Regions from separate parts of the Homo sapiens genome. Here region 1 is linked to region 2. Evidence: fine-mapped expression QTL. A gene starts in region 2. The other region holds a variant in brackets. All regions are shown on one strand. Distances are from middle to middle.

What was found. PIP is the estimated chance that this variant, and not a neighbour inherited with it, causes the effect.
Region 1: its variant is fine-mapped to the expression of ZIK1 in blood mononuclear cells (TOPMed, PIP 0.99).

Annotation. Positions count from the first base shown.
Region 1 is chr19:57,542,329-57,547,705 of GRCh38, reverse strand. ZNF550 (zinc finger protein 550) reads left to right here. Exons shown (of 4, transcript NM_001397372.1): 4 at 1-5,377. The coding sequence ends at 731. Among named protein-coding and RNA genes, the nearest start is that of ZNF550, 15 kb to the left of the region's middle. The variant ATCC/C (reference allele first, on the strand shown) is at 2,049.
Region 2 is chr19:57,581,940-57,587,316 of GRCh38, reverse strand. It overlaps ZIK1 (zinc finger protein interacting with K protein 1), which reads right to left and starts at 3,172. Exons shown (of 4, transcript NM_001010879.4): 1 at 2,928-3,172; 2 at 2,327-2,365. The coding sequence starts at 2,960. RefSeq lists enhancers at 3,336-3,435, 3,132-3,663.

The DNA.
Region 1 (5,377 bases), 40 kb after region 2:
ATGTTCTCCATGAATGTGACTCACAGCAACCAGGGAAAGACGCCTTGATTCATGCAGGGACAAACCCCTACAAATGCAAGCAGTGTGGGAAAGGTTTTAACAGGAAGTGGTATCTCGTTCGACATCAGAGGGTTCACACTGGAATGAAACCCTATGAATGCAATGCATGTGGGAAAGCCTTTAGCCAGAGCTCAACTCTCATTCGGCACTACCTCATCCACACCGGGGAGAAACCATACAAGTGCCTTGAGTGTGGGAAGGCCTTCAAACGCAGGTCGTACCTCATGCAGCACCATCCAATCCACACTGGAGAGAAACCCTATGAGTGTAGTCAATGTCGAAAGGCCTTCACCCACCGGTCTACTTTTATTCGCCATAATAGGACCCACACTGGAGAAAAGCCCTTTGAGTGCAAAGAATGTGAGAAAGCCTTTAGCAATAGAGCCCACCTAATTCAACATTACATCATCCACACTGGAGAGAAGCCCTATGATTGCATGGCATGTGGAAAGGCCTTCAGATGCAGCTCAGAACTCATACAGCACCAGCGGATTCACACTGGGGAGAAGCCCTATGAATGCACCCAGTGTGGGAAAGCCTTTCACCGGAGCACGTACCTCATTCAGCACTCTGTCATCCACACTGGGGAGATGCCCTACAAGTGTATCGAGTGTGGGAAGGCCTTCAAACGCAGGTCACACCTTCTGCAGCACCAAAGGGTCCATACATGAGAGAACCCTATTGCTGCAATGAATACAGCAAGGCCTTTACCCACTGTTATTTTATCATTCATAATGGGACCCACACTGTAGGAAGAAGTCCTTCGAATGCAAAGAATGTCAGGAAACTTTTCATTTTTTTTGTCAGCTCTTTCTTAACTAACACATGAGCAGTCACTTTGGAGAGAAGCCCTGTGAATACAGTGAATGTAAGGATCCCTTCAGTCACCACTCAGTTCTCACTCATTGCAGAAGGATTCATACCAGGGGGAAATGTGGAAGGCATTCCATCAACATCAGAGAACTCATGCTGGAGAAAGACATTCCAAATATAACTATTAAGGACAGTCTTTGGCCAGAGCAGAAATCTTACTATCTGAGAATCATAATGAAAAGTTACTACATAATTGTTATTGATGTGAGAAAACTTTGTGACCAGGTTGTCACTTGCTTGTCCTATAAAGAGCCATGCTGGAATTTGACCCACCTTGGGATTTTCTCTATGAACTTATGAAAACCTTCAGTTACAGGTATCTTCTTGCTTTATGTCCTTACAGACTTCCCTGTAAGATCAGTTTTATTTTTTGGTAGGGGAATGTTTGAGAGGTAAAGGGGTTTTATTCCTTTTTTTTTTTTTTAACATACATTCACTGCCATCCTTTGTCAGAGTTAGACAGTGAGGGCAGCTCTTCAGGCATTTCTTGGAAGTTGCCTTTGATCCAGACATCTCTGGGAGGATATCCATGAGGAGAGTAATTCTTTGTGAGAAATATGAAGGCTTGTGTCATGAGATTCTTGAATTTAGTAGAAATTAGAATACTGAGAACATCTTCATGTGACACTTCTTTTTTATATCTAGGGTGAGAAGAACCCATGTACAGATGGCCACATTAAAATGTGCACCACATTAAAATGTGCAATACCTAAGACTGTTTAAGGCTTTGATTTTTATTAATAAACTCATTATTTTTTAAGAGACAGGGACTTGCTCTGTCACCCAGGCTAGAGTGCAGTGGCATGATCATAGTTCCCTGTAACCTCGAACTCCTGGGCTCAAATGGTCCTCTTGCCTCAAGTTTCTGAGTAGCTTGGGATACAGGCATACACCACTACGCCTGGCTAATGTTTGTAATTTTAGTAGAGACAAGGTTTTACCATGTTGGCTGGGCTGGTCTGGAACTCCTGGCTTCAAGTGGTCCACCTGCCTTGGCCTCCCAAAGTTCTGGGATTACAGGTGTGAGTCACTGCACCCAGCCTTAAATTTTTTTGTATAGATGAGGTCTTGCTGTGTTCCCCAGATTTGTCTCAAACTGCTAGACTCAAGTCATC[ATCC/C]TGCTTAGCCTCCTAAAGTGTTGGGATTACAGGTGTGAGCCACCACACCTAGCCTAATATGGTTTCAAATGCTCAGCACTCTCACATTTTCCTGATTCCATTCTGTCTGTTTGTTGTCTTTATTTTCTCTGGCAACATAGTGATCACTTTGTACTTGCTTGGCCTTCTCAGATGAGTCCTAATTCTTTCTGGTGTTTATCAGATTCTTTAATCCTGTGTAGAGGGGTATTTTTAGGTCCCCCTCAGCATTTTTCTAGGGATTGAATTATAGCTAAAACAGGCAAAATAAAACACACAACTAAGATGAATCCATGGTAAACCCAGTAAACCCAAGAAAACAACATGGAGAGGAATCTCATTGTCTGATCTTATAAACATTTGCGTGAAGTTTTGCTACAAAATAAAGTGCCTAGCATTTTAACAGGTGAATCAGGATATACGTGGGCAGGTTTACGTGAGTTTCATAGTTAACCACCATGACCTTAGTCCCTTGGTGCTAGCACTGAATATGGTAATTAGTTTTGTTGTGTTTTGAGATGGAGTCTCACTCCGCTGCCTAGGCTGGAGTGCAGGAGTGCGATCTTGGCTCATTGCAACCTCTGCCTCCCGGGTTCAAGCGATTCTCCTGCCTCAGCCTCCCAAGAAGCTGGGATTACAGGCATGTACTACCATGCCCAGCTAATTTTTGTATTTTTAGTAGAGACAGGGTTTTGCCATGTTGCCCAGGCTGGTCTCGAACTCCTGACCTCAGGTGATCCACCCACCTCAGCCTGCCAAAAAGCTGGGATTACAGGTGTGAGCCACTGTACTTAGCCTGAATCTGGTAATTTGAAATTCCTTTTGTGAGATTTTCTTTTAGTTTTCAAGCTACATGAGATAATGTTAGGTTAAAACGTGTGAAAAATAGAAAATTATCATTTTCTCACTTTGAGCTTTCCTCACAACCTTTTAAAGCACTGCATATATATTCATGTTTTCATAGTGGGCATGTACCTTTTACTGTGGTCCTTTTGCACATATTATAAATAGAATTCTTGGTGAGTTAAGAGTTCTCTGTTTTTGTTTTTTCAGGACAGAGTGCACAGTTTCCTCTCCTGTGGGAAGGAGAGTTGACTCTTGAGGACCCCCACCCTCCTGCATCCTCTCTCTGGAAGGCTGCATGTATTGTAGCTGTGGCTGTACTTGTACCTAAGGCCCTGGGTTCAAGAGAGTTGGAGAAACCCCTCTAGAAACATATTGGCTGTCATCAAAGGGTTCTTTCCAGGCCTGAGGACCTAGGCCCCAGTTTGTCCCAAAGCAGGAGTGTTTTCCATGGGATAAAGGACACCCTAGGTTTTTCTTAGCTTCCAGCTCTTTCCATACAGTCTTCACTGAAGTGTTTGGTACAAGGATCTACTATGAACTTGCTGCTGTGATAGGCAAGAATCTCATGAGACACCTGTCATTTAGCTCCATGGCCACTCACTGTTGTGGTCATACTTAGAAGAGTGGGATGCAGTGGATGGCTGGGCTATGGGTCCTGCCCTTGAGCAGGGAAGGAACTTACTGTCTAATATAGGAAAAACACATGAGAACAGGTGCAATATATTGACTTAAACTTGTTTAGCACCCGTTTTTAAGTCAGTAGAAGTTTTGAACTTACAGTAAAAGTTGTGAACTTCTGTATGTTTTCCACAGTTTATGATTGAGGTAAAACATGTTTTTTGTTTTGTTTTTGAGACAGAGTTTCACTCTTGTTGCCCAGGCTGGAGTGCAGTGGCGCCATCTCAGCTCACTGCAACTTCTGCCTCCCGAGTTCAAGGGATTCTCCTGCCTCAGCCTCCCGAGTAGCTGGGATTACAGGCGCCCACCACCATGCCCGGCTAGTTTTTTTGTATTTTTAGTAGAGACGGGGTTTCACCATGTTGGCCAGGCTGGTCTTGAACTCTTGACCTCATGTAGTCCACCCGCCTCTGCCTCCCAAAGTGCTGCGATTACAGGCGTGAGCCACCGTGCCCGGCAGAGGTAAAACGTTTTCATGTTCATGTTTTTGTAACTTTGTTACATTTAATGAACAAATTAGATAAAAAGCACTATGCTCTTATGCTGCTTAATCTGTGAGAAATGATTGTGGGGGTGGGACTAGTTATGACCATTCACAGTTGGTGCACTTCAATCAGTAAATGTCACAGAGGAAATGTGGACGGTAAATTAACTCGGCAAGTCGGTCATGCAAAGACGAATTAGAAATCTTAATATTTGTAAGCAGACAAAAAATGTGTCTGGAAGGATCCTCACCCAGTTAAATGGTATTTGCTCCTTGGGTGTAGAGGGAGGGAAGGGATGGGGTAGAGGGGAATGTCAGAGTTCACTTTAACTTCATGCACATGTGGAAATGTTTGAAATGTTCACAGTAAATTTTATAATTTCAGAAAAACTGCTTAAGGTTGAAAAGAGAAATTTAAGAAATTGCTGACGGAATAAAAACATAATAGAACTACAACACCGAAGGAAATGAAAGAAGCAAGAAGGAAAGCACCAGAAGTGATTTGGAAGAGAAATCCTAAAATGAATGTGAACAACAGAGTGATCAGAAGAGTGTAGGGAATTAATAGTTTCTTTAAACAAGCCATCTCACAATGGAAGCCTGTGTGTCTTGAAATTGCTGTGGTTATTATTCACTCTGCCCTTTGAAGAACTGCAGAAATTCATAGGGCAATGTTAAGTGTTTGTGTCTCCAAAAAAGATGTTGGAGTCGTTACCCTCAGAACCTCAGGTAATCATGTTAGTTAATCCATTAGGTTAGTTCCTAATTGACTATGACTGTGTCCTTAGAAAAATGGGAAATTTGGTCACAGAGGCAGATGTACAGAGGGAAGACGATGTGAAGACACAGGAAGAACATCTTCAAGCCAAGGAACACACGGGGCTACCAGAAGCCGAGATAGAAGCATGGAACATATGTTCTAGTAAGAAGTGTCTGGGTTGTTTTGGTTTTTTTTCTTTGGAGTTTTTGTGGTATTAAATTATTTTTAAATTATGTTTTATTGTAGACCTCACAATTCTTTTTTTTTCTTTTTCACTCAAACTACAGCAAAATATTATATTTCTATCCTATATTTCATGGGCTTACCTCTAGCCAATTGTTTTTAACTGCCATGTAATATTTTACATCATGAAGCTTTCATCCTTGATTCAAATCCTCTGATTATGGACATGTATTTCCTCCATTTTCCTGCTATGAAATATATCACCACCAGCTTGATTCAACCTTAAAAATAAGGTCATCAGTATTATGTTCTAAATAAACTTATGGCCATACATGAGAAATGTACCTTGCAGCTGAA
Region 2 (5,377 bases):
TCTTTATCTCCATGTCTGTCTTATGTCCCTAATGCCTTGGAAGCCTTGACCACTTATCAGATGATATGATTTGGCTGCGTCCCCACCCAAATCTCTTCTTGAATTGTAGTTCCCACAATTCCCATGTCATGGGAGGGACCTGGTGAGAGGTAATCGAACCATAGGGGCAGGCCTTTCCCATGCTGTTCTCATGATAGTAAATAAGTCTCACAAGATTTGATGGTTTTATAAGGGGGGAGTTCCCCTGAACAAGTTCTCTCTTGTCTGCTGCCATGCAAGACATGCCTTTCACCCTCCACCATGATTGTGAGGCCTCCCCAGCCACGCGGAATCATGAGTCCATTAAACCTCTTTTTCCTTACAAATTATCTAGTCTCCAGCACATCTTTATCAGCAGCATGAAAATGGACTAATACAGTAAATCAGTATGAGTAAAGTGGGGCTGTGCTGTAAAGATAACTGAAAATGTGGAAGCAATTTTGGAATTGGGGAACAGGCAGAGGTTGGAACAGTTTGGAGGGCTCAGAAGAAGACAGGAAAATATGGGAAAGTCTGGAACTTCCTAGAGACTTGCTGTCTTTATCAGCAGTGTGAAAATGGACTGATACACCAGATCATCCTCTTTCCTACAATCTTCCCATGACCACTTTTCTCTCACAACTGTTTGTGATGCTCACCACCTCTACCACGTGTCCAAGCATGAGACACAGTCATAGCCCCAACCTTCCCTTTTCTGTTTTTTTGTTTTGTTTTTGAGATGGAGTCTCACTCTGTCACCCAGGCTGGAGTGCAGTGGCGTGATCTTGGCTCACTGCAACCTCCGCCTCCTGGGCTCAAGCAATTCTCCTGCCTCAGCCTCCCTAGTAGCTGGGATTACAGGTGCCTGCCACCACGCCTGGCTAATTTTTGTATTTTTAGTGGAGACGGAGTTTCACCATGTTGGCCAAGCTGGTCTAGAACTCCTGACCTCAAGTGATCCGCCTGCCTCGGCCGCCCAAAGTGCTGGGATTACAGGTGTGAGCCACCACACCCAGCCCTTTCCTGCATTATAAATAGCATTATCTTCAAGACCAGGATTACCCACTCCTAATTGTGACCCATAGCTACTCTGGGCCAAACACTGGCCACCACCTTTTGGATTTCTCCATCTTAAACCACTTCCAGAATTCTAGATGTACATGGACAGCTACTCACCTGATGTCTCCATATATCATTCTTTGGAATATCTCAGACTATGATAATAGCTAAAGACAAAACTCCTGTTATCCTTAATGAAAATTAATTGGCTGGGCATGGTGGCTCACGCCTGTAATCCCAGCACTTTGGGAGGCCAAGACAGGTGGATCACCTGAGGTCAGGAGTTTGAGACCAGCCTGGCCAACATGGTGAAACCCTGTCTCTACTAAAGATACAAAAAAAAAAAAAAAAAAAAATTCGCTGGGCATGGTAGCACGGTAGCATGTGCCTGTAGTCCCAACTACTCAGGAGGCTGAGGCAGGAGGATTGCTTGAACCCGGGAGGTGGAGGTTGCAAAGAGCCAAGATCGAGCCACTGCACTCCAGCCTGAGTGACAGAGTGAGACTGTCTAAAAATAGACAAATAAATAAATAAAATAAAAATAAAATCAATCCTATAACATGCTATTTGATGGAGATTCCATCCTTCCAGATGCTAAATTCAAAATGCCTGGAGTAATGCTTGACCAGTATCTCTTACCCTCAAAATCTGAAAATGCAAGCAGGCCTAATTAAAATTCTGACCCAGAATCCAGCCACTTCTTCTACCTTCACAGCCACCACACTGGTGAAGCCACTATCAAAACTCACCTTGGCCACTGCAGTAGCCTCCTCCCTGGTCTTTCTATCGCCTCCATCACACCCACAGAGTATTCTCTATGCTGCATTAACAGTGAACCTGATGAGACCAGTGTCAGATAACCTCCGTTCTCTTCTCTAAACCTCCCATTGTTCTCATCACCTCCAGAAAAAACACCCAATTTCTCAGAGCCATTCCAGGCCTGAGTCCTGCCCTGCTGCTCTGAGTTCCCATGAGAAAGAAAGGAGAGTTGTGTTTCCCTGAATCAGCTCAGCTTCACTGCCAACCTTACACATTATTGTACGTAGGCGGGGCAACCTTTCACACCTCATTCCATTGTCTGCCAGCAATAAGAACGTCTACAAATAACCACCAGTCTAGAATCAGGATGTCAAGCTTCCAGTTTGTGAAGAGTCCTTAGGTCAAAGAACTGGATGGTGGCAAAAAGATCCATGAAAAAACCCCAGGATGGGGCCAGGACCAGTGAGGGCCTGGGACACCCTCCACTCACCTTTGTGAGGTCCATATGTGTTTCTGGAGACACAGTAACCTGTGGAAAGCCAAAGATCATGAAAGGCAGGTGACCATACAGGGCTCTACGGATTCAGGCTTCCCTGGATTCCTGTCCAGGCCAGAGCCAGGTGGACTGAGGATGCCTGCATTATTTCTGAGCCTCAGCGTTCCAGTCCTCAGTGCCAACTCTTAGCAACTGTGGGACCTTGCACAAGAACTCAACCTCCCTGTGCCTCTGTGTTATTCCATTCTATTCTAGTCTAACTCCATGAGGTTTTTGGAAAACTTCGAAAGACCTAACTCAGACCATATGCCGCTTCTGTACACAACCCTCCACGGCTCCTAGCATCCTAAGAATTGAGGGAAAACTCCTCACCTTGGCACTCCAGGTATGAACCTTCTTCACTGTGTCTCCAAGAGTTTAGAAACGCTGGTCCCTTTGCCTGTAACCCTCTTCCGTGCCCCATCACCCAAGTTCTGGAAATAGGGACCCCACCCACGAGCCCCCACTGTACTGGACATGAGGATCTCGACCGTAGTGACCCAAGAAGGCACTAATTTGGGGATGGAGGGTGAGGCCCAGTAGAGGCAGCGCTCACCTGAGTCGGGGCCCTCAGCGCGGCCGCAGCCATCGGAGTCTGTGGGCAGAGCGGGGCCGGGACCCGACAGCTACGGGCGGAGGGACCTAGGCAAAGCCGTCAACCCCGCCGCCGCCGACCCTTAGAACCCCCACTGTTCAGCGGGAGGACCCCTCCCCTCGCGCCTTCCGACTGTCGCCAAACAAAGCGCTCCCAAAGCTCTGACGGTCTGGATGCACCCAAGCGCTGCAAAAATGACCGCCACTGAAGTGATACCGGAAGTCCCTCCCCGACCCATTGGTCCCAAAGCGGAAACGACCCTTTTCTCAGCGCGGATTGGCTCAGCATCCCTGCGGCTGGAGACAAAACCTTCTGGGTTCTGTAGTCCCCGCTGGTCCCCAGGGCTGAGGGAAGGATGCTGCCGCCCAGCGTCACCTCAAACAAAAGCCAAGCGGCCGCGCTGGGGGCGCAGGGAAATGGCGTCGCCACAATGCAGGAGAGGGCTGGGCCTTGTCGCTCCTTAAACAGGCCGCTGGTCGATTTCTGTGGTCCCGTCGCGGCTGAGCGCCCACGTGATTAGAAGCATTGATTCAGGCTCAGGAAGCTGAGGCCAGATCCACACCGACGCGTATTCCATACGTATTCGACGCTCCTGCGGGAGCAAAGGAGCCTCGTGCCCCTCCCTTGCGGGGTCAAGGCGTTCGAGGCCGTGCCGGGGCCAAGGCTATTCTGTGAAAGGAGCGACTTAGGTGTCGCGCTGTGGGCACGTGTCCCGGGAGGCCACGTGGGGGCCGCGCCCCCGGCTGCTCCTGCTCTGACCTGAGCCCTTTGACTGTACCCAGAGGCGGGAGGCGGGGCCGAGACGTCCCATGGGAAGGGGTTCTCCGTAGCTCCACCCCGGGGGACGTCTCCTCCAGGGGGGCCGGGCGAGCTGGGAAGGCCCCAGAGCCGCCGAGGAAAGCGCCTCTGCTTCCCTGAGTCCCCTCCTGGGTCTAGGAGCCGTTCCTGCGTTTTCTGACGCCCTCTCCACCGCCCCTCGGCTGAGAACTGGGTCCAGATGAGCCTTGGACCCCGTTGAAGACGTCTCCTACCTCATCTCCCACACCTGCTGGGACCATCTCCAACCGCCCTCAGGGCAGTAGGGAGGTAGGCGGGTTCCCAGGGCACCCCAAGCGGTGGCGTACAGTGGTAGGAACAAGGCCTCTGGAGCCCAAGAATGGGATTTAGTCCCCGAGGGGAAGTCCATGCTCTGCCTTACAGCGGCTGGTATGGGCTTCTGGGGGCACCCTGAGACTCGGCCTGTAGGGATACTCATAATGGCCTCCATGAAGGTGCAGGTTTAACCACTGGACCAGTCTCATCTGGCCATCCTCTGTTGGTAACATAATGTCCAGTTATTTTGCAGGCACAGAGCTAAAGAGTTGCAAGTTACACAGCTAGAGAATGTGCAGAAAAGAAAATGTCAGGCCCAGCGCGGTGGCTCACACCTGTAATCCAAGCACATTGGGAGGCTGAGGTGGAAGGACCACTTGGGCAACATAGCCAGACCCCGTCTCTACAAAAACTAAAAAATTACCCGAGTATGGTGGTGCACCTGTAATCCTAGCTACTCAGGATGCTGAGGTGGGAGTATCGCTTGAGCCCAGGAGATCACGGTTACAGTGAGTTATGATTATGCCACTGCACTCCAGCCTGGGCAACGGAGCCAGACCCTGTCTCAATAAATAAATAAGTAAATAAATAAATAAATAAAAAGAAAAGAGAAAAGAAAACATTGACCCAACACTCGGAGCTGAAGTCTCACCTACCAGACTCCACCCTGTCACCACAGGAAACCAAAATATCAGGCTATGGCTGGAACCCAAGTGCTGAAACACTTCCGAAAGCAAGGGGTCTGTTGTCTCTGAATGTTGGGTGATAACAACCCCATCCCCGCCTTGCCATCAATAGATTTGTTTGAAGTCCTTCCAATCAAAATCCACCCTTCCAGTGCTTACCAACCTGTCCTTCCTAATCCTTAAAAGCTGCCCCAAACCCCATATTGGGGAGACAGATTTGAGCTGGACTCCTGTCTTCTTGTTTGTCGACTTGCAATAAAGGTTTGCTTTTCTCAAAAACCTGGTGCCATGGCATTGGCTTCTGTGTGCGTCGGACAGCAACCCTTTTCCTTATTAACACTGGCACCCTCTAGGTGACACGGTTGTGCACCTCATTACCCTCTGGTCCCAGAGGCCAGCAGCCCCCACAATGGCCACCTAACACCTGCCCTCACCCTCACTGTCCTTTCAGAGTTGCCACATCACATCAAACATGGCTCCCCAAACTTCAAGCATGTGTGTCCATCTAGGCATAGAACTAGCGGAATTGCCTGGATAACTTGGGGAGGAGGGATAGCCTAGTTCGGAAAACCTGCTCTGTGTGGCATGCCCAGGGGACAAATGACCCACCTACTCCTGAGGCCCAGTCCTTCA